5 separate regions of the Homo sapiens genome follow, and all the other regions are linked to region 1. Evidence: fine-mapped QTL for protein levels in blood plasma. Region 1 holds a variant in brackets. A gene starts in each other region. All regions are shown on their reverse strands.

Region 1 (4,117 bases):
AAATCAACTCCAAAAGGAACCTTAAAAACCATGCAAATACATGGAAAATTACCTGCTCCTGAATGATCATTGGGTCAAAAATGAAATCAAGATGGAAATTAAAAAATTCTTCAAACTCAATGACAATAATGACACGGTCTATCAAAAACTCTGGGATACAGCAAAGGTGGTGCTAAGAGGAAACTTCATAGCCCTAAACGCCTACATCAAAAAGGCTGAAAGAGCACAAACTGACATTCTAAGGTCATACCTCAAGGAACTAGAGAAACAAAAACAAACCAAACCCAAACCCAGCAGAAGAAAGGAAATAACCAAGATCAGAGCAGAACTAAATGAAATTAACAACAACAAAAAAATACAAAAGATACATGAAGCAAAAAGCTGGTTCTTTGAAAAGATAAATAAAATTAATAGACCATTAGAAAAATAAACCAAGAAGAGAAGAGAGAAAATCCAAATAACCTCATCAAGAAATGAAACAGGAGATATTATAACTGACACCACTGAGATACAAAAGATTATTCAAGGCTACTACAAACACCTTTATGCACATAAACTAGAAAACCTAGAAGACATGGATAAATTCCTGGAAAAATACAACCTGCCTAGCTTAAGTCAGGAAGAATTGGATACCCTGAACAGCCAATAATAAACAGTGAAATTGAAATGGTAATTTAAAAATTACCAACAAAAAAAAGTCCAGGAGAAGACAGATTCACAGCAGAATTCTAATAGACATTCAAAGAAGAATTGGTACCAATCCTTTTGACACTATTCCACAAGCTAGAGAAAGAGGGAAGCCTCCCTAATTCATTCTATAAAACCAGCATCACCCTAATACCAAAATCATGAAAGGACATAACAAAAAAAGAAAACTACAGATCGATATCCCTGATAAACATAGATGCTAAAATCCTTAACAAAAATACTAGCTAACCAAATGCAACAACATATCAAAAAGATAATCCACCATGATCAAGTGAGTTTCATACCAGGGAGGCAGGGATGGTTTAACATATGCAAGTCAATAAATGTGATACACCACATAAACAGAATTAAAAACAAAAATCACATGATCAACTCAATAGATGCAGAAAAAGCATTCAACAAAATCCAGCATTGCTTTATGATTAAAACTCTCAGCAAAATCGGTACACAAGGGACATAGCTCAATGTAATAAAAGCCATCTATGACAAACCCACAGCCAACATAATACTGGATGGGTAAAGTTGAAAGCATTCCCTCTGAGAGCTGGAAGATGACAAAGATGCCCACTCTCACCACTCCTCTTCAACATAGTACTGAAAGTCCTAGCCAGAGCAATCAGACAAGAAAAATAAATAAAGGACATCCAAATCAGTAAAGAGAAAGTCAAATTGTCATTGTTTGCTGACAATATGATCATTTACCTTGAAAACCCTAAAGACTCCTCCAGAAAGATCCTAGAGCTGATAAAAGAGTTAAGCAAAGTTTCCAGATACAAGATTAATGTACACAAATCAGTAGCCCTTCTATACACCAAAAGTGACCAAGCGGAGAGTCAAATCAAGAACTCAACCCCTTCACAATAGCTGCAAAAATAACAAAATACTTAGGAATATACCTAACCGAGGAGGCAAAAGACCTCTACAAGGAAAACTACAAAACACTGCTGAAAGAAATTATAGATGAAACAAACAAATGGAAACACATCCCATGCTCATGGATGGATAGAATCAATATTGTGAAAATGACCATACTGCCAAAAGCAACCTACAAATTCAACGGAATCCCCATCATAATATCACTATCATTCTTCACAGAATTAGAAAAAACAATTCTAAAATTCATATGGAACCAAAAAAGAGCCCGCATAGCCAAAGCAAGACTAAGCAAAAAGAACAAATCTGGAAGCATAACACTACCTTATTTCAAACTATACTATAAGGCTATAGTCAACAAAAAAGCATGCTACTGGTATAAAAATAAGCACATAGACCA[A/G]TGGAACAGAATAGAGAACCCAGAAATAAACCCAAATACTTACAGCCAACTGATCTTTGACAAAACAAACAAAAATATAAAGTGGGGAAAGGACACCCTTTTAAACAAATGGTGCTGGGATAATTGGCTAGCCGCATGTAGGAGAATGAAACTGGATCCTCATCTCTCACCTTACACAAAAATCAACTCAAGATGGATTAAGGACTTAAACCTAAGACCTGAAACTATAAAAATTCTAGAAGATAACATTGGAAAAACCCTTCTAGACATTGGCTTAGGCAAGGATTTCATGACCAAAAACCCATCAGTAAGAAAAAAAACAAGCAATCCCATCAAGAAGTGGGCTAAGGACATGAATTGACAATTCTCAAAAGAAGATATACAAATGGCCAACAAACATATGAAGAAATGCTCAACATCACTAATGATCAGGGAAATGCAAATCAAAACCACAATGAGATACTACCTTACTCCTGCAAGAATGGCCATCATCAAAAAATCAAAAAACAGATGTTGGCATGAATGCGGTTAACAGGGAACACTTCTATGCTGCTGGTGGGAATGTAAACTAGTATAGCTGCTAAGGAAAACACTGTGGAGATTCCTTAAAGAACTAAAAGTAGGCCAGGTACGGTGGCTTATGCCTGTAATCCCAGCACTTTGGGAGGCCGAGGTGGGTGGACTGCCTGAGCTCAGGAGTTCACAACCAGCCTGGACAACATGGTGAAACCCCATATCTACTAAAATACAAAAAATTACCTGGGCGTGATGGCGTGTGCCTGTAGTCCCAGCTACTCGGGAGGCTGAGACAGGAGAACTGCTTGAACCCAGGAGATGGAGGCTGCAGTGAGCCAAGATTGTGCCACTGCACTCCAGCCTGGGCGACAGAGCAAGACTCCATCTCAAAAGGAACTGAAAGTAGAACTACCAGTTGATCCAGCAATCCCACTACTGGGTATCTACCCAGAGGAATCATTATACGAAAAAGATACTTGCAGATGCACATTTATAGCAGCACAAATTGCAATTGCAAAATCATGGAACCAACCCAAATGCCCATCAATCAACAAGTGAATAAAGAAACTATGGTATCTATATACAATGGAATACTACTCAGCCATAAAAAAGGAATGAATCAGTGGCATTTGCTGTGACCTTGATGAGACTGGAGACTATTATTCTGAGTGAAGTAACTCAGGAATGGAAAACTAAACATCATGTTTTCACTGATATGTGGGAACTAAGCTATGAGGACGCCTAGGCATAAGAATGATACAAAGACTTTGGGGACATGAGGGGAAGGGTAGGAAGGGGGTGAGGGATAAAAGACTACAAATAGGGTGCAGTGTATACTGCTTGGGTGATGGGGGCACCAAAATATCACAAATTACCACTAAAGAATTTACTCATGTAACCAAATACCACCTGTACCTCAACCACCTGTGGAAAATAATAAAACAAACAAACAAAAACCCAAAAAACAAAATAGCCAAACCATAAACCAACTGAACTAAAAGGTAAAATAGACAAATCTATAATTATGTTTGAAAATTTCAATACTCCTCCCTCAGTAGTTCATTAAAAAAGTTAAAAAGAAATCAATGACATAACTGACTTAATTGACATTTATAGAATATTATACTCAAATATAGCAAAATACATATTCTTTTGAAGTGAATTATGAAACATTTACCTAGATAAACATATTCTGAGCCATATGAGTCTCAATAAATATATAAGGAATGAAATCTATGTTGTTGGACCACAATGAAATTCGAACAGAAACATCTCTGAAAAAAATCCCCAAATATTTGGATATTAAACAACACACTTCTAAATAATCCATGATACAAAGAAAAAACCAAAAGGGAGATTAGTAAATTTTGACCTGAAAATGAGTTTTCCTATCAAATTTGAATTTCATATCAAAGTTTGGGAGATGTAGCTATAGCAATACTTAGAAGAAATTTATAACCTTAAATGTTTACATTAAAAAGGGAGCAAAATCAATGACCAAACTTCTACCTTAAGAGCAAAGAGGAAATTAACCCAAAGTAAACAGAAGTTACAAAACAATGAGAACAGAAATCAATGAAATAAAAAGTGGAAAAATAAAAAAAATTATCAAAACTAAAA
Region 2 (4,117 bases), not on the chromosome of region 1:
CAGACACGCCCACGCCAGACACACGCCCACTGGGCAGTGCTCCTGCAGACACACACACACACACACACGTGCACCCTCCCCCTTCTCCAAGAACTCACGCAAATTCCACAGCAGTGAGGGGAGCTGGTTTTCTTGGCAGCACAGAGCCTTGGGCTCCCCAGCCCAGGGAGGGGACTCTAAGGGCAGCTGATGGGGGGTCCAGGAGAGGTCACTAACAGAGTTAGGTGGCCTTGCTGCCCTCCCATGAGCTCAGGGCTGGCCAGTGGTCAGGGATAGCCATCCCTGTGGGCAGCCTCCCCTCTACACACCTCTGCTCACTGGCAGGACTGGCTGTCTGGCCTGCTGAGGTGGGAGCTCCCTCCTGGGCTCAGCAGGGCCCTGCTTTCTTGTTCCCAGAGGCTGCCCAGTGTTGTGTTGGGACCCACTTATAAGCCCAGGCAAGGACTTAATTTTCTGTACTTGGGACTTGTCCCAGCTCCCCCGGGGCTGTCAGTGGGGGTGACAGTAATGGGAGCTAGGAGCCGCGGACCCATCTCCTGCCCGGGGCATCTCCCTTGCCATCTCCCTGGCCCCTGGGCTGCGTGCCAGAGGGGCCTTCCTCGGGTAAGCACAGGTCTGGGCAGTGTCTGAGAGGCTCCTTATGCTGAATCCCATTCTCCCATTCCCAGAATATGGAGAGAGAGGTGCCATCTGGACAAATGCCCTGGGACCCCAGCCCCCAGCCCCATCCCCATCTGACCCTCCGGACCCACAGGTAGCAGGACAGCTGTTCCAACGTGCAGGAGACAGGGGCGGGGTGGGGACAGGCAGTGCCCGGCCCCCAGGCTGGCATGTGTGTGCGCATCCTCCCTCCCCAGGCCCAGGGGAGGCTAGATAATGGTCTGGAGGGGATCCAGCTGGGCTGCTCATCACCAGAGCCTCTTCCTGCCTCTGACACTCTGTTTACAGAAGCTCCAGGCCAACTCCCCTGGGAGAAGAGAGTAAACTCAGGGGACTGCTCCCCATCCCCCACCCGCCTGCCCCAGCTCTGTTGGGTTTTTGTCAATAGCTGGGCCCATCCTGGACTTTGCTGCCCCCTGGACTGGCCCTAATGGACCCTGCTTGGAAGGTCCCAGCCCGGCCACCCCTCTATGCCCTCAACACCCAAAGTACAGTCTAGTGTGAAGGGACCTTGGAGATTTTATCCAATCCCCAGCCCTGGAGGCTCTCAGCCTGGGGAAGGGGGCTCTAGGTCCCGCTGCCTCTCTCCAGAGCCTCACCTGTCCTTGGTGCAAAAGGCAGGCATGGGGACACCTAGACCCCCAGGACCTCTTCCTTCCACCCTGCACACTCCACCCCTGGGCCACAGCAGGGGAGGCGGTCAGTGACCCTGGTGTGGCAATCGTTAACGAATGGGGGAGAGGCAGAATGGTTGGCACCAATCGGCTGGCCTGCCAGTGACCACAGGGGACCTCAGCAGTCCTCAGGCCCCAGCACTGCCAGCCCAGGGACACAAAGGACTAGGCTGGCTCCAGGCCACTGGGTTTGCAGCCCAAGCAAAGCCCCTTCCCTGGCAGAGGCAGAGACCCGGCACCCTGCCTGATACCCGAAGCTCTAAGGGCCCTGGCCAGTACAGGTCCATCCCCCACCTGGAGGGATGGGCATCGGACGCCCACCAGCCACTCCCCGCCCCTCCCTAGGGCTGCATATCTGTAGCCCCCAGCTGTGCTTTGAGTGACAAGGGTCCAGAGGACCCCGGGCAGCCCTTCTGCACAGCAGCACCTACTGCCGGACCCCAGGAGGGAAAAGTGACCCAAGCCTGTGGCTTGGCTATCCCCCTCAAAGGGGTTTGATTCATAAAACTGGTCATGCCGGAGGCCCAGCCGTGGGAGGAGGAAGCATGGGACGGGGTGTTTATTTTGTCTGCTTGCAGCCTCGCGGGCTCACCGCACACTCAGGCGCGCACCCTGGCCGGCCGCGGGGCTGTCGGCGCCCCAGGACGGCGGGGGAGGGAGCGTACAGGGCCTGCCCGCCGGGCGGCCCAGGTGACCGTGTGGGGCTGGGGCCGCGGTCCCGCCCGAGAGTGCGTGTGTGCGCGCGGCGGCGGTCCCCGCGCGTGTGCACAGCCTGGCCGTGGCGCCCCCTTCCCCGCCCGCAGCCCCCCAGCCCCACAGAAACTCACCGGGAGGCGGCGGCGGCGCAGGGAGCCGGGCGGGGCAGGCCGCGGCCTCAGTCTTTCCTGGCGGGTCGGGCCCGAGGGGGTCCTGGGTCCCGAAGCAACTGCGTTCGAGTCCGCGTCCACCCGCCCCGGGCTCGGGCTCCGGAGTCGGCTCGCTGGAGGCAGGTCGCGCCTTAAGAGTCCCGGGGGGCGGGCCCGCCGCGGCAGGGGCGGGGCCTCTCCCCATTGGCCGGGGCGGAGCCGCGTGGAGACACGCCCCTTCCCCACCGAGGGGCTCGTGGGCCGGGTTGCCCTGGCCCTCACCCTGCGGCCACCTGACCTGCGCGGGGAGACCTTGCCCGTCGTGGGTTTGCCGGATGACACTGGGCAGGTTTCTGCTTTTTGTGTAAAAAGCGAGAGACTATTTAGGAATCCTAAGCGTCACAGCCCAGATGCCTATGAGGCACCAGGCAGGTGACAAATGCCAGAAGTCCACCCCAGGGCCTCTGCGGCCCTGGAGAGGCAGGATGGCGGGAGTGGGGCTGGTAAGGGCTGAGTCCTCATGACCAGCCCGGGCCAGCTAGAGCTTTGGATTTTTGAAGAGAAACTGGAAATCCAGATTTTTAGGTGAAATCTCTCAATGTGTTATTGTTGGTAGCTAATCCCAATTTCAAAAAACTCCTGGCAGCCCACACAAAGCCCTTTCAAGAGCCTCCTAAGTATAAACTCCAATGCCAAATCTGAGCTCAGGGTCCTCTTAGCCACGACAGCCTTAAGAGTTGTGAGCAGCCCTGGACTCTCTTCCCCACCATATTATGAGATGAAGGGGCTGTGTCAGGGAGGGCAGTGGTGGTCTGCCCACGGCCCCACAGTTACTGGCAGCTTCAAGCCTGAGCTGTGGAGGCATAGGGGTGGTCACCGTCGGTGGGTGGGGCCTGGGCTGCAGTTGACAGTGGCCCTTGATTGGGCAGGAGGGGCGGGTGCCAGGGGCCGGACTAGTCCAGAAAAATCCCCTGCCTTGGAGGATTCCAGGAAAACACTCTGCCCTCCTCCCCCTCCGCGTTTGTGGTCAGTCATGCCTCAGAGCCTTTGGGGGCCCAGCTCAGCTCCTGACTTCCGGAGAGCCTTGGGACACCCACACCCCCTCCAGCCCGGCCTGTAGCCAAGGCCCTTGGCTGGGCTAGCTCTAGTCTTTGGGGGGCCTGAAGGCTTATCCCTGGGAGGCTGGGCCACACCAGCTGGAGGGTTTCCTAGTCTCTGGAGGACTCAGTTATCTCCAGAAGGCAGGATGGCCTCTGTGTCTAGCCGTCAAGGGCTAAGCAGGGCCTGGCTGGGACAGTCACCTTCTGGACCTCCCGTCCACAGGGCCCTCTCCCCACAGGGCCCCTTTCCAGGGCTGGCAGGGCTCCACAACCCATACGTTTCTCGGTCTACATGGATTAGGGCATGGCTTGCGGACCTCTGTTCCTGGGTTGGGGCTGGCCTTTGGGTGCATTTAGTGCAGGCTTTATGGGAGTTTTTACAACTTTGAAGGCACTGCTAACATTGAAAAATCAGGTGGTTTCATATTAAAATGGGGCTTCCCAGCTTGCATTGAACAGGAACTCTCAGCTGGGGCTGAGTGGCGGTTGCTCCCTCTGCCAAAATGTGGGCTCATGGGTCACCCCAGTCCCCACCACTCCCTGCTGCCTCCTGCCAAGCTGTCCACTCACTTGAGTTTCCTGCCCGGCCCCAGAACCATCTGAGTTTCCAATCAGTGCTGTGCAGCCTCTTGTCGGACTGTTTCCCTGCCTCTTCCCTTGGCCCTGTGTCCTCTGAAGCCCTCAGAAGCATCCACAGATGCCCAGGGTCAGGGGTAAAGAGGGCTCCAAGAGCCTCCAGCCTGGCTTTCCTCAAGGAACAGGACCTCCTGATGTCCTTGAAGCTTCTCACCTCTGTGGCAGGTTCTTGTAGACGGAGAGACCCCATCTGCCTGGTGTT
Region 3 (4,117 bases), not on the chromosome of region 1:
TGGTTGCAGAACATAATGAATATACTGAAACCACTGAAGTATACAGCTAAAAATGGTGAATTTTTATGGTATGTAAATTATATTTCAATAAAAAACATACTGCGACACAGGAAACAGGATACACAATGATTCTATAGAAAATGGATTAGAATATTAAATTCAAAAAAGGATAACAGTTTAAGAATTTAAGATATTTTTAAAAAGGCATCTAAAATGGTGCACAAATACCCACAAGTAATGTGGCAGCTAACAACGTGGGGAAAAAAAATCAAGTGAAATATTATATTTTACATAAAAATATGTTACAGGATGCTTAAAGAGTCAATTGCAAATAAAATCATAAAAGTTCTGCCAGAAAAAAAATGTGGGAAAATGGTCATTAATTAAAAAACATGTAATCAAACAATGCAGCATTATCTTATTTGGAGAAAAACATATATTCAGAATATCTGATGACATGCGTGACATGCAGCATAGTATTAACTTAAAATGCAAAGAAAAAATTCTATGTACAGTGTGAACCCATTTTTGTAAATTAAAAACAGTATACACATAGAAAAAAGCCAAGAAGCCTGTATACACCAACAGGTTGGGAATCATTCCCTCTGAGTGGAGGAATTATGAATAATCTTTACTTTCCTCTTTTTGCTTAATTTTAATTTTTTCAACTTTTTACAGTTAATCTGTCACATATTTAAAATGAAAAGAGCTACTTATAATTAATTTACCTATCCTACCTACTTTCATTTCCACCATCAAGCCACACAGATGCCTCAGGTAATGTTATATCAAGAATTTCCATTCCAGGCCAAGCGCGGTGGCTCACGCCTGTAATCCCAGCACTTTGGGAGGTCGAGGTGGGCGGATCATGAGGTCAGGAGATCGAGACCATCCTGGCTAACATGGTGAAAACCCGTCTCTACCAAAAATACAAAAAATTAGCCAGGCGTGGTGGCAGGCGCCTGTAGTCCTAGCTACTGGGGAGGCTGAGGCAGGAAAATGGCATGAACCTGGGAGGCGGAGCTTGCAGTGAGCCGAAATCGAGCCACTGCACTCCAGCAGTCTGGGCGACAGAGAGAGACTCCGTCTCAAAAAAAAAAAAAAACGAATTTCCATTCCAATGACCACATGCTTCCCATTCCCAACATTACCTGGAAAATGTCCACTAGAATCATGGTTGCCAGCAGCATGGTGACTATTTCAAAATGTCCCGTCTTCATTTTTCTCTTCTAAATTAAAATAAAGAAATTTCAATTCAGTAGACTCAAAAAAGAGGTGTAGGGAAGTAGAATAGGATGACACTGCGTATTTTTTCATTTAGAATGTGAGTGGATAGCATGATGGTCAGGAAGTGATTATCAATAAATTCCTAACGGGCTACAAGAGCCATTAGGCTTTATCTAGTGGTCTAATGCTCTCATTCTACAGACGAGGAAACAAAAACACCTTAGAATTTCAGTGATTTGCTCAAGATTAAATCTGTGCATTTCCATACTCCTCCAGACATGTCATCTCTCCCACCACAGTCACTGGGAGTCATATTTTCTTCCCATCTCTAAATCTCCCCTCAGCGTGCACAGGAAATAACACAATCAGACTAAAAAACAGCAGTCTCAAATTGGTCCCCTAGCTCCCAGTTTCTAAGAATTCCCCAGGAATATGTCCATGCACATTATCCATTCTTCTATCCTCTTTGCACATTGTCATGCCCTTTTGAGTGGGACAGAGGAGATGATGAGGTCAGTAGTGGTACAAAGCAGTGGATTGTCAGAGATGGCCCCCTTCCCCCAAATACAATCAAGAGAAGCCCGAGGGTAAAATAAGTGTCTTACATAACTTTCTGAAGGCGGGAACAAGAATAAGAAGGAACTGGGTAGGCAGCAATTCTAAGATTATACAACTATTGGCCGAATGCCTAATATTCATCCCAGTATTTATGATAATGTAACTCAAATGAAGCTTCTATTTTACCCTACCAATCACCATATTCTGGATTCTAAAAATGAGAATGAACAGCACAGGGGAAGGGAGAAGTCTTCCCTTTTATAGATCATTTTGGCCTCAGTTTCCCATATTTCTTCAGAAGCAGTTTTGTTTTGTTTTTACTAAAAATACTAAAATATAGTACCAACATGCTACTTTGTGTTAAACTTCTCTTTCCAAAAAAGATTTGAATATAAGATGATAGATATCTGTCACAAGGCAATATGTTTTAAGCAAGCTTTGATCAGGATTTTCCTAAAAATTGTTCATTTCTTTAGTCTGAGTGTAAATAAGTCAAAAGGTTTACCTGGCTTTTGTGCCTTTGGAGGAAGTTTAAGTGATGCTAGGCCTCAAACTGACTCCCCACTCTCAGTTGTGGTAAGCAAGTCTTCAGGATGGGATGTTGTTGACAGTGAGAGCTGAGACAGGAATGCTTTTCTTTTTATAAACACCCCCAGCAGTAGCTTGGCAGTGGCACACTACGCTACTTGTGTTCTGCTATTTATATCTGGCCCCCCCACACTATGCCTTGGAATCACTGCTGTTAACACTTTAAATCTCCAAGAGGCTTGTAAAGCCATAGCAATTCCCTTTAGCCACACAGCACATTCAGTTCTGAGCCCACAGTTCTGGGCTTCTCTCAGAGAGAAATGACTTCCCATTCCTAATCCTTTGACACTGAGATATCAAACTAAAGCATGGATTTTACTCTAGGCTAAGTGATTCACATAACTAGGGAAACTTGCTCTGTTAATCACTGGCAATGGTGACAGCTATCACCATTCGCTCAACTAGCTTACTATATTTCAGGTACCTCGTCAGGAGTCGGGATACATAAGCAAGTAAAACAAAGTACTAAAAAGCACTCAAAATCTAATAAAAAACATGAATACGCATACTTAACCAAAATACAACATGTTAAGAATCCCAAGTATAGACAAAGTCCAGTGATAACATTAAGGAGGGAAGGATTTGGTAATGCCTGCAACTACAGCTGTCATTTGAGTAACGCATACATGGTAAATATACTGACTGCAATGCTGAGGAACACTTAGGGTTCACTGACTGTGGATTTAAAAAACACAAAAATGTCCAAAGAAATTCACGCATACATACACCAAAATACATTAATAGAATGTTGATAGTAGCACTATTCATAATAACCCCCAAACTGGAAACCAAATATCCATCAACAGTAGAATGGTTAGACTGTAAGTGAAATTTTATATAGCAATGAAAACGAACAAACTCTGACCATATATAACAATGTGGATAAATCTCACAAACAAAATTTTGAGTAAAAAAAGAGATACAAGCATGTTTATACTGTATGATTTAATTTATATCAAGAACAAAATTAGGCAAAACACTTCCAAGGCATGAGAAGTCAGAATAGTGGTCACCCTGGGTAGTAGCTAGTAACTGGAAAGGGCACAGAGGAGCATCTGAGATGTTAGCTGGGTTCTGCTTTTTGCTATGGATGCCAATTACATTGACAAATTCAGTTTGTGAAAATTCAGTGAGCTATATACTTATGATATGTGTTTTTTTTGTACACACATATATTACTTCAAGAAAACATTTTAAATTATCATGAAATACACCTATATTTACAAAATCCAACTCTACTCTTTAGAATAGAGATATGTTCCAACCTTTTCCCACCTCACTGGCTTGGCAATCCAAGATTAAATACACAGCACAGACTCACTCCCAGAAATAATATGATTTTTTAAAAAGCAGGAGTTTGGTTAGAAAGAAAAAAGAAAGTTTGCATGTCTTCAGGCCTTAGGCTCACAACAACCTGCTTTTAAGTTCCAAGCATGTAGGCCTACAGGAAATGAGGTAGAGAAGTTCTCCTGTCGCTGGCCTCCATTCCTGTTTTGTTCCAGTTTTTAACCAAATTTCTTTCATTCATTCATTGAACAAATATTTGAGTCCTTAAAATGTGCTAGGAACTGTTTTAGGTACTAGAGATATACCAGTGAACGAAATGGATAAATATCTTGCCTTTGTGAAGTTTATATTCTTGTGAGGGAAGGCAGTCAAATAACTAAAATAAGTACGTAAATTATGCAAGTATGTTAGAATGTAGTGAGTGCTATGGTTTTGGCTTTTGTTTATAAGTAGCACA
Region 4 (4,114 bases), not on the chromosome of region 1:
GACCTGCCTGTCCCTGGCTGGATCTGAGTTGTCTGCTCCTGACTCTGACCTCTGGACTGACCCCTGGTTTGATCCCTGTGTGGTTGGCCAGGAGGGGTGGCTGTAGCTAATGCTGAGCTATCAGCCTCATTGCCTCACCAATCATTAAGTCTGCCTGTTGCACAGATAAGGAGAGGCTTGGAGAGGCGATGTCTCCCTCGAGATCACACAGGCCTTTCATGCCCACTAAGATGGACGTCCCTGACTCACAGGACCAGGCCTGGCTGGAAGGCAGTCTGCTCTTCCCATCAGCTACTTGCACCCTCTAAGACTGAGCACAGGGGGCTCTCATTCTCTCCCTGCTCCCCAAAACAAATCCATCTACAGATTGATGCAAAACGTACCCTCAGACTTTGGGAAGTAAATACATTCATTAACAGGTCACGTCCCCGCCACGTTGAAAGGCAGCAGGTCCCCTCGCGAGCGTGGGTGCACGCATGGGCTGTGCCAGTCCCTTGGTTCTTAGTGATTTGCACACTTCTGTGAATCCACACACACTCTGGTGGATGCTCTCGGACATGCTCAAATGGTGCAGGCGCTCCCAGCATGGGTGCACCCAGGCGGGCGGGTGAGACAGAAGCGCCTCTGGACCTCTCACATGCTAGTGGCACCGGCTGCTAGGACTGTAAGTCCTGGAGGTCAAACTGCGGCTGAGGTGTCATTCGTGACTCAGTCTCCTCCTCCCCTCTGGCCTGGGGAAGGGACAGGGGCACTGAGTACTGACCTTTGCTCCCGCTGCAAGCTGGACTGTGCCTGATTCAGGAGCAGGGTTGGGACCGATGGGTTCCAGGGAGGTGAGCCTTGCAGGAGTAAGACGTGGCTAACATTTAGTGATCACTTTTCCTATGTGCCAGACATTGTTGCAAGCACTATAAGATCATCTCAGTGAATCCTCACAGCCTAGGAGGCAGGTACAATGGTTATGTCTCACCAAGGTAACTGAGGCTCAGAGAGGTTATGAGACTTGCCCAAGGACACACAGGCAGTACGTGTTGGAGCCTGGATGCCAAGCCAGGGAGTGGACTCCAGCATCTGACCCCAACAATCACGGAGAGATGGCACAGGCTGCATCAAAAAGGAGGCAGCATGGTAGCGTGGGGACCACTACAGGGCAGTGGGGACCCAGCAGAAGGGGTGCCAGAGTCAGGAGGTCATTTGACTGCCTTTGACCCTAGGAAACATTAAGCCACTTCTGGAAACTGAAAAAATGAACACAAAGCAAATTAGAGTTAGTACAATTGTGGTCTACTCTGATGGCGTTCATTTTTACAAATAAATGTAGCTCACTGTTGTCAGGCACTGCACTCACCGACAGGAGCCAATAGTGCAACGTGCCTGGATGTCACCTCATAGTCACTAGGAGTGGTGTGGTCCGGCAGAGGGACCCATGCTGACGTGGTGTGTCACCTTCTCAGTGGATGTTTGTGTGTGATTATGCATGCAGCCTCATTTAGAGATCCAATAGACATCTAAGTAGAAGACCTCCTGGGCACCACCACCATTGCCCTCCATCCCCCAATGGGAGGTCCCCTGAGAGCCTCAGGTCCCAAGATTCTGCTCAAGCCAGCTGCTCCTGCCCAGGGAGTGTGGCTGGGGGGCAAGAAGGGCAGGAGTCAGGCCTCAGGCTGGTCCCACCCATCACCCTGCCTCTGGCCCACCTGGCGCCCCTCAGAGGGCTGAGTCTCACTCTGCCACTCTCACTAGAGGAGGGAGCACTCTGCTACCCTCCCTGCTTTGCTCCAAATCAGGAACACAGTATGATTATTATACAGTATGATTATTATAATAACAGCAACTATTTTTCAGAGCTTACTCTGTGCCAGGAGCTCTATAGGCAGCCCTCTGTATCCTTGGTTTCTGTGTCCATGGATTCAACCAACCTTGGATTGAAAATAATTTTTTAGGCCGGGCGTGGTGGCTCACGCCTGTAATCTCAGCACTTTGGGAGGTTGAGGCGGGCGGATCACGAGGTCAGGAGATCGAGACCATCCTGGCTAACACGGCGAAACCCCATCTCTACTAAAAATACAAAAAAAAAAAAAAAAATTAGCCGGGCGTGGTGGCGGGCGCCTATGGTCCCAGCTACTTGGGAGGCTGAGGCAGGAGAATGGCGTGAACCCGGGAGGCAGAGCTTGCAGTGAGCCGAGATCGTGCCACTGCACTCCAGCCTGGGTGACAGAGCAAGACTCCATCTCAAAAAAAAAAAAAAAAAAAAAAATATATATATATATATATATATATTTTTTTTTTTAAATTGCATCTGTGGGCCGGGTGCAGTGGCTCATGCCTGTAAGCCCAGCATTTTAGGAGGCAGAGATTGGAGGATCACTTAAGGCCAGGAGTTGGAGACCAGCCTGAGCAACATAGCGACACCCCATCTCCATTAAAAACAATGTTTTAAAAAAATTGCATCTGGGCAGGGCGCAGTGGCTCACGCCTATAAGCCCAGCACTTTGGGAGGCCCACATGGGAGGATTGCTTGAGGCCAGGAGTTGGAGACCAGCCTGAGCAACATGGTGAAACCCCGTCTCTGCTGTAAATACACAAATTAGCTGGGCGTGGTGGTGGGTGCCTGTAATCCCAGCTACTCAGGAGGCTGAGGCAGGAGAATCACTTGAACCTGGGGGGCAGAGATTGCAGTGAGCTAAGATCGTGCCACTGCACTCCAGCCTGGGTGACAGAGTAAGACTCCATCTCAAAAAAAAAAAAAATTGCACCTGTACTAAACATATACAGACTTTTTTGGTGATTACCTCCTAAACAATACAGTATAACAACCATTCACACAGCATTTCCGTCGTATTAGGTATTATAAGTAATCTAGAGATTTAAAGTATGTGGGAGGCTGTGCTTAGGTTATATGCAAATACTATGCCATTTTATATCAAGGACTTGAACATCCATGGATTTTGGTATCTGCAGAGGGTCCTGGAATCAATTTCCCATGGAGACTGAGAGATGACCGTACTACCCACTTCGCAAGCAATGTCTTCTTTAATGTACTGAACCATCCCATTGTTCAGAGGAGAAACTGAAGCTCAGGGCTTTGAATAACTAGACCAAGGAGGCACAGCATGGGAGTGGGACATGAAGCACTCTACAATTAACCCTTTCAGGACAAGGCCCTGTCTCCCACACCCATCTGCCCAAAGGCTCTCCAGGGCCCCCTCCTCTTGGGTGTACCTTGACAAGAGACCTAGATTTTAGCTCACTATGCTGTCTGCAGTCCTGGATGGTCCCACTCCAGTGTCTGGTGCTCTGAGATGGAGTCAGCATTAGTGGCGGATGTGGAGACTGGGGGGACCTGTCTTCACTGGGGTAGACAGAGGAGATGTGGACTTTGCCCCCCATGAGCCCGGCACAAACCCAGAGCCGCCAGCAGGGCCTCGAGGCATCAGTCCCGGGCTCATGGGCTCCCTGAGGTGTTTCTCCTACTGTTTTCCGTTCCCCTCCTCCCTTCCATGCTGAGGTTGGTGGGGTGGGGGTGGGGGTGCCCACGCACGGAACAGCCACCACTTCTAACTATCGCCTGAGCCCTGATCTGCTGTCAGCTTCCACGTAGTCTCAGGGTCACAAAAGTCCAAGAGGCCTCTTGGGAATGTGTCACCTTCCAGCGTGGAGTCACACTGAGGAAGGAGGAGGGGAGGGCAGCCAGGGGGGTGGCGATAGGGAGAGAGTTTAAATGTCTGGCTGGCTCTGAGCTTCAGTCAGTTCCCACTGCAGCGCAGGTGAGCTCTCCTGAGGACCTCTCTGTCAGCTCCCCTGATTGTAGGGAGGATCCAGTGTGGCAAGAAACTCCTCCAGCCCAGCAAGCAGCTCAGGATGTTCCTGAAGGCCGTGGTCCTGACCCTGGCCCTGGTGGCTGTCGCCGGTGAGTAGAAGCTGTCTTTGGATGGCACTCCTGGGCTGCTGCTCTGAGTAGTGCAGGATGGAGGCTGAGCCAAAGCAAAAGGACACTTCTGAGTGCCCATCAGCCCCCAGCTGGACATGAGGTCTGCCTGGCTGCCAAGTGGCTCACAGGAGAGCTGGCCCAGTCCCAGTGGTGGGCCCATTGGCATTGGTGCTATACCAGTTT
Region 5 (4,117 bases), not on the chromosome of region 1:
CCGGCGGATCACGAGGTTAAGAGATCGAGACCATCTGGCCAACATGGTGAAACCCCGTCTCTACTAAAAATACAAAAATTAGCTGGGCGTGGTGGTGCACGCCTGTAGTCCCAACTACTCGGGAGGCTGAGGCAGGAGAATCGCTTGAACCTGGGAGGCTGAGGTTACAGTGAGTCAAGATCGCTCCACGGTACTCCAGCCTGGCAACAGAGCGAGACTCTATCTCAAAAAAAAAAAAAAAAAAAAAAAAAAGGGAAGGAGCTAAGTAAATTCATTTATACTTGTCAGGCCTCACTGCATTTAACACCTCACTGCATTAACAGCTACCACGCCCGGCTAATTTTTGTATTTTTGTAAAGATGGAAATTTCACCATGTTGGCCAGGCTGGTCTCCAACTCCTGATCTCAGGTGATTGGTCGGCCTCCGCCTCCCAAAGTGCTTGGATTACAGGCCTGGGCAACCGTGTCCGGCCAGTATTTGTATTTTGAAAGCAAAGTTTAATTATCCAAAATAATTACTCATTAATAGTAGCCCTTGTAGTTGATGGGAAGTAATAAGGAGAGAAGAAATCTTTTCAGTACATTTCAACAATTAATGCAAGCTGAAAAATGACACCTGTAGTAAATCAGATGTGGATTCAAATCCAAGTTCTTACTGTGAAAAGAAAGTAAATTATTTCAATGTCTGTGTCCTGGTTCATTAAATGAGGATAATCATCTGCCCCTTTAGCACCAATCACTTTTTCAATTGTAAGTATATTTTATTTAAGTGTGAACATTTTTAGGACCGATTGCAGCCACATTCAGGGTCTAGCACAGGGACAGGCATGTATGGGCACTCAATAGATGTTTGTTGACCCATACATCAATATAAAAGGGATTTGCAAATTGTAGAGCACCGCGCATGCCTCAGTTATAACAATACTGATCTTTATTACTCTACCTATGAAGAAAGCAAGTTCTTCTTTCACTGAACAGGGCTGGTGGTAGGGAGACAGGCTAGGGGCGAGCAGGAAGAAGGAATCAAGTCAAACAGGGACCCCTGCAGCAGAATCCATTGGGACACTTTAACTTAGAGTGTAGATTCCCAGACCAGACCGACAGAGTCCGAATCTCAGACCCTTTCGAGGTCAAAAAGCCCTGATTTGGGAGGTGGGTGATAATGGTGACAATCTCACTAGCCCTCTTACTGCTCCTTGAGAAATACTAGCGTACCAGGAAAAGTGGTGAAGGAAGCGTTCCTGAAGATATCCTTTCCTCAGTGACTCTCAAACTTCGCTTTTAGGAAAGAGGAATTTCGCTATTCCATGCGTTTCACACCTTAGAGTGAGGGTGGTAGGTAACTTAGATTTTCCTCTCTTCATTAAAAAAAAAAAAAAAAAAGAGTGTTGGTGGGGAGGGGGAGGAGGCCAGTTGAAAAGTAGAGGCCGAGGACAGAGTTAGACACTCGTTGTCTAACGGCCCTGCCGGAGGGGCTCCGCCTGTCAGACTGCGTCACCCTCTCGCCAAGGGTCCCCCAGACGGGCGGGGGCTCCTTGCGGCCGGCTAGCTACTCTCCCCGCCTCCCTGCGCCCTCGCCCTCCGCCCCGCTGTACCCGCAGAGCGCGCGGCCCAGCGCAGCCCCTTTTGGCACCGAGGTTTCCAGGTGCCCAGCGCGAAGGCGGAGCCGGGTTACAGCCGCCTCCTCGGCGCCACAGAGAAGACCCCCGGGAGTTCGGCGGCCCAGGCGCTCCGGCTCTGCGTCCCGAGCCTCCCCCGGCTCTCCGCGCTCCTCCCTCTCGGCGCGCCCGGCGCGAAGCCTGCGATTCGTGAGCCGAGCGCAGAGCGCAGAGCCGAGTGGCGCACGCTGGGCAGTGGCCTGGGCAACCCCAAACGCAGCCAGAGCCCTCACCCGAGTCCGCTGGCCCGCGCACTCCCGGACCATGACTGCCGAGGGACCCAGCCCGCCTGCCCGTTGGCACAGACGCCTCCCCGGGCTCTGGGCGGCGGCGCTGCTCCTGCTCGGTCTGCCGCGCCTTTCGGTGCGGGCGGATGGTGAGTGTGCGGGAGGCGGCGGGGCGGGGGGTGGAGCGTGGGGTCCGGGCAGGGAGGGCGTAGCTCGCCGGGGCTGCTCCCTCTGACCGGCCCGGCAAGCGGCAAGCGCAAGCCTGAGAGGAACGAACGAGCCGCGGTCCTGCGACCCAGCATCCCTCTCCTGGCCCACCAAGTCTCCGCGTGCCCGTGCGCCCAAACGCCCGCCTGGTGCCTGGACCCTCCCTTAGCGCCGAGCGCGTAGGTCCCGCAGTCCCGCCGCTGGCTTTCCTAAGGTCTCCAAGAAAGCTCGAATGAAATCACCTCTAAGGTGCCCTAGAACCTCCTCTGCTAAGGGGTGATTTTCCGCCGTCCCTCAGTTTCTCAACGTCTATTAATGTGCCCCTGAGGACACCGCCGATGGTTAGAAAACTCCCTCGGATATTTTGGCTTGGTCCGGGAAGACGTGAAAGATGAGTGGGAATCAGCGAGGCTAAGAGAGAGAGAATGGCCTGGCCAGAGGGAAAAGCACGTGCAAAGGCTGTCTCTGAGTGACAGGAAAAACGGGACAAATGATAAAGCAAAGTACCTGGAGGCGAGGGGACGTCTTGAGACATGAGGTAGAGAAGTGGGCAAGGGCCAGATTATGGCAGGTTCTCTGAGAATTGATCCACTTCTTGTTCGTTTGCTTGGTTTTTCAGCCTGAATTTAGCTTGTAATACTTGCCCTAAAATGAGCAGGATTGGAGCTCTGTATCCATTCCCTTTTGAAAAGCTAATTCAGCTGTGTTTTCATATTAGAACAAAATCCCGCTGACTTGGTACAGGAGCATCTGAAGGAAGCAAGCTTAAAGCCAGCAGTTCTCACACCCATGAGGTAGTTCTAGCTTAGGACGAATTAGACTGATAAAAGAGAAAAGCCCTCCGTCAATTTAGGATGCGTTGTATATTTTAAAATGTGATTCTTGTTTAGCCAACGATATTGAGTGAAACTAGAAGACATGGGGAAAAAAAAAAAAAGCATGGTTGTCAGGAAAAGGGGAAAGCCAAGGAAAAAACCGTCTAGGTCGTAGAGTTTTTAGTGCTCTCTGTTTTAAGTGCAGGCTTGAAAAGCTCTCCGTTCCTAATTAAGGATGAATGTCGTATTTCTCCATATCCTCAGAGAGAGTGTTAGAGACAAAACATTTTTAACTTTGAAGGCTGTTAGTAACCACTGCTAATTTTTTTAATTGACATGTATTTCACATAAAATTTGTCATTTTAAAATATACAGTTAAGTGGGTTTTAGTATATTCATTAGGTTGTGAAAACCATGGTTTGCATGCATCTAATTCCAGAACATTTCCATCACTCCTCAAAAGAATCCCATACCTATTAGCAGTTTACTGATAATTCTTCACTGTAGTGTTTTTTGACTGACATTGAGCCATGAAAATTAAGCTGATTTTAAAGAATGCAAGTAGAATAAATTGGAGCTAATATTAATCTTTGAACAAGATATATTGTGCCAACTTTAATTCCTTTTAAATAAATATTTTTGCAATCCATAAGGTTTTAGAGTTTCATCCCATTATAACTGTTTAAGTGGAATGCCATGTGGATAAGGATCAATATTTTGTGCCTGTCTAGCTTGATACGGGTCATAGAAAATTAAAGGCAGAAATGTCACTGGTCAAAGAGAAAGTAAGGACAACACCAGAGCACATGATTCTTTGTTACTGCTTGCCAGAAATGATTCCTTTTCTTCATTCTCCTTCCTTTTCTTTCCCCACTTCCTCAGTGGACAATTATAGGTATACTTCCTTATAGTAAACTCAATTTTATGAGCTCCAACTTTTATACTAGAACCAGGAAGAGTTATAAGCTATATTATCAAAGGATTCTTTTTGGTACTAAATTCTTAGCTGCCACCAGTTCCTACATTTAGTTATTTGTGTGCTATGGTGACGGGAGGAAGAAGAAGAAATGCTCAGCTTAAGTATGATGAATTACAGATGTTTGAAGAGATAGATTTGGAGAGAAACTATTTCTAAAAACGTGTCATCTGTATAAGGATGGTCTTTGAAATCATGTGCGTGGGCAGAATCCTAAGGAAAAATTTTACAGCA

Which allele goes with the higher level. Positions count from the first base shown, and alleles are read on the strand shown. Strength reflects both the effect of a copy and how common the allele is.
With allele G in place of A in region 1, the plasma level of the protein whose gene starts at base 2,307 in region 2 is higher (weak association).
For the plasma level of the protein whose gene starts at base 2,401 in region 3, G is the high allele of the variant in region 1 and A is the other (weak association).
As copies of A replace G in region 1, the plasma level of the protein whose gene starts at base 3,749 in region 4 goes down (weak association).
With allele A in place of G in region 1, the plasma level of the protein whose gene starts at base 1,910 in region 5 is lower (weak association).

The links. A credible set is the group of variants that fine-mapping cannot tell apart. PIP is the chance, under the fine-mapping model, that this variant and not a neighbour inherited with it causes the effect. Protein levels are from antibody-based Olink assays in UK Biobank. Linkage for the fine-mapping came from a reference panel and not from the study's own genotypes, which makes the PIPs less certain.
Region 2: it holds the start of VASN, and the variant in region 1 is the best candidate, but not a certain one, in a credible set for the plasma level of the VASN protein (UK Biobank, PIP 0.70).
Region 3: it holds the start of ART3, and the variant in region 1 is the best candidate, but not a certain one, in a credible set for the plasma level of the ART3 protein (UK Biobank, PIP 0.60).
Region 4: it holds the start of APOA4, and the variant in region 1 is the best candidate, but not a certain one, in a credible set for the plasma level of the APOA4 protein (UK Biobank, PIP 0.90).
Region 5: SUSD5 starts here. The variant in region 1 is the best candidate, but not a certain one, in a credible set for the plasma level of the SUSD5 protein (UK Biobank, PIP 0.58).

Annotation. Positions count from the first base shown.
Region 1 is chr1:179,600,592-179,604,708 of GRCh38, reverse strand. The region is part of intron 4 of TDRD5 (tudor domain containing 5); the gene reads right to left. Among named protein-coding and RNA genes, the nearest start is that of TDRD5, 11 kb to the right of the region's middle. The variant A/G (reference allele first, on the strand shown) is at 1,982.
Region 2 is chr16:4,370,038-4,374,154 of GRCh38, reverse strand. VASN (vasorin) reads right to left here and starts at 2,307. Exons shown (of 2, transcript NM_138440.3): 1 at 2,162-2,307. The region is part of intron 9 of CORO7-PAM16 (CORO7-PAM16 readthrough); the gene reads left to right. All of the region lies in intron 9 of CORO7 (coronin 7), which reads left to right. RefSeq lists an enhancer at 2,100-2,925.
Region 3 is chr4:76,072,993-76,077,109 of GRCh38, reverse strand. It overlaps ART3 (ADP-ribosyltransferase 3 (inactive)), which reads right to left and starts at 2,401. Exons shown (of 12, transcript NM_001130016.3): 1 at 2,291-2,401; 2 at 1,152-1,229. The coding sequence starts at 1,220.
Region 4 is chr11:116,822,939-116,827,052 of GRCh38, reverse strand. APOA4 (apolipoprotein A4) reads left to right here and starts at 3,749. Exons shown (of 3, transcript NM_000482.4): 1 at 3,749-3,910. The coding sequence starts at 3,862. RefSeq lists enhancers at 1,246-1,540, 1,395-1,761.
Region 5 is chr3:33,216,603-33,220,719 of GRCh38, reverse strand. SUSD5 (sushi domain containing 5) reads left to right here and starts at 1,910. Exons shown (of 5, transcript NM_015551.2): 1 at 1,910-2,034. The coding sequence starts at 1,923.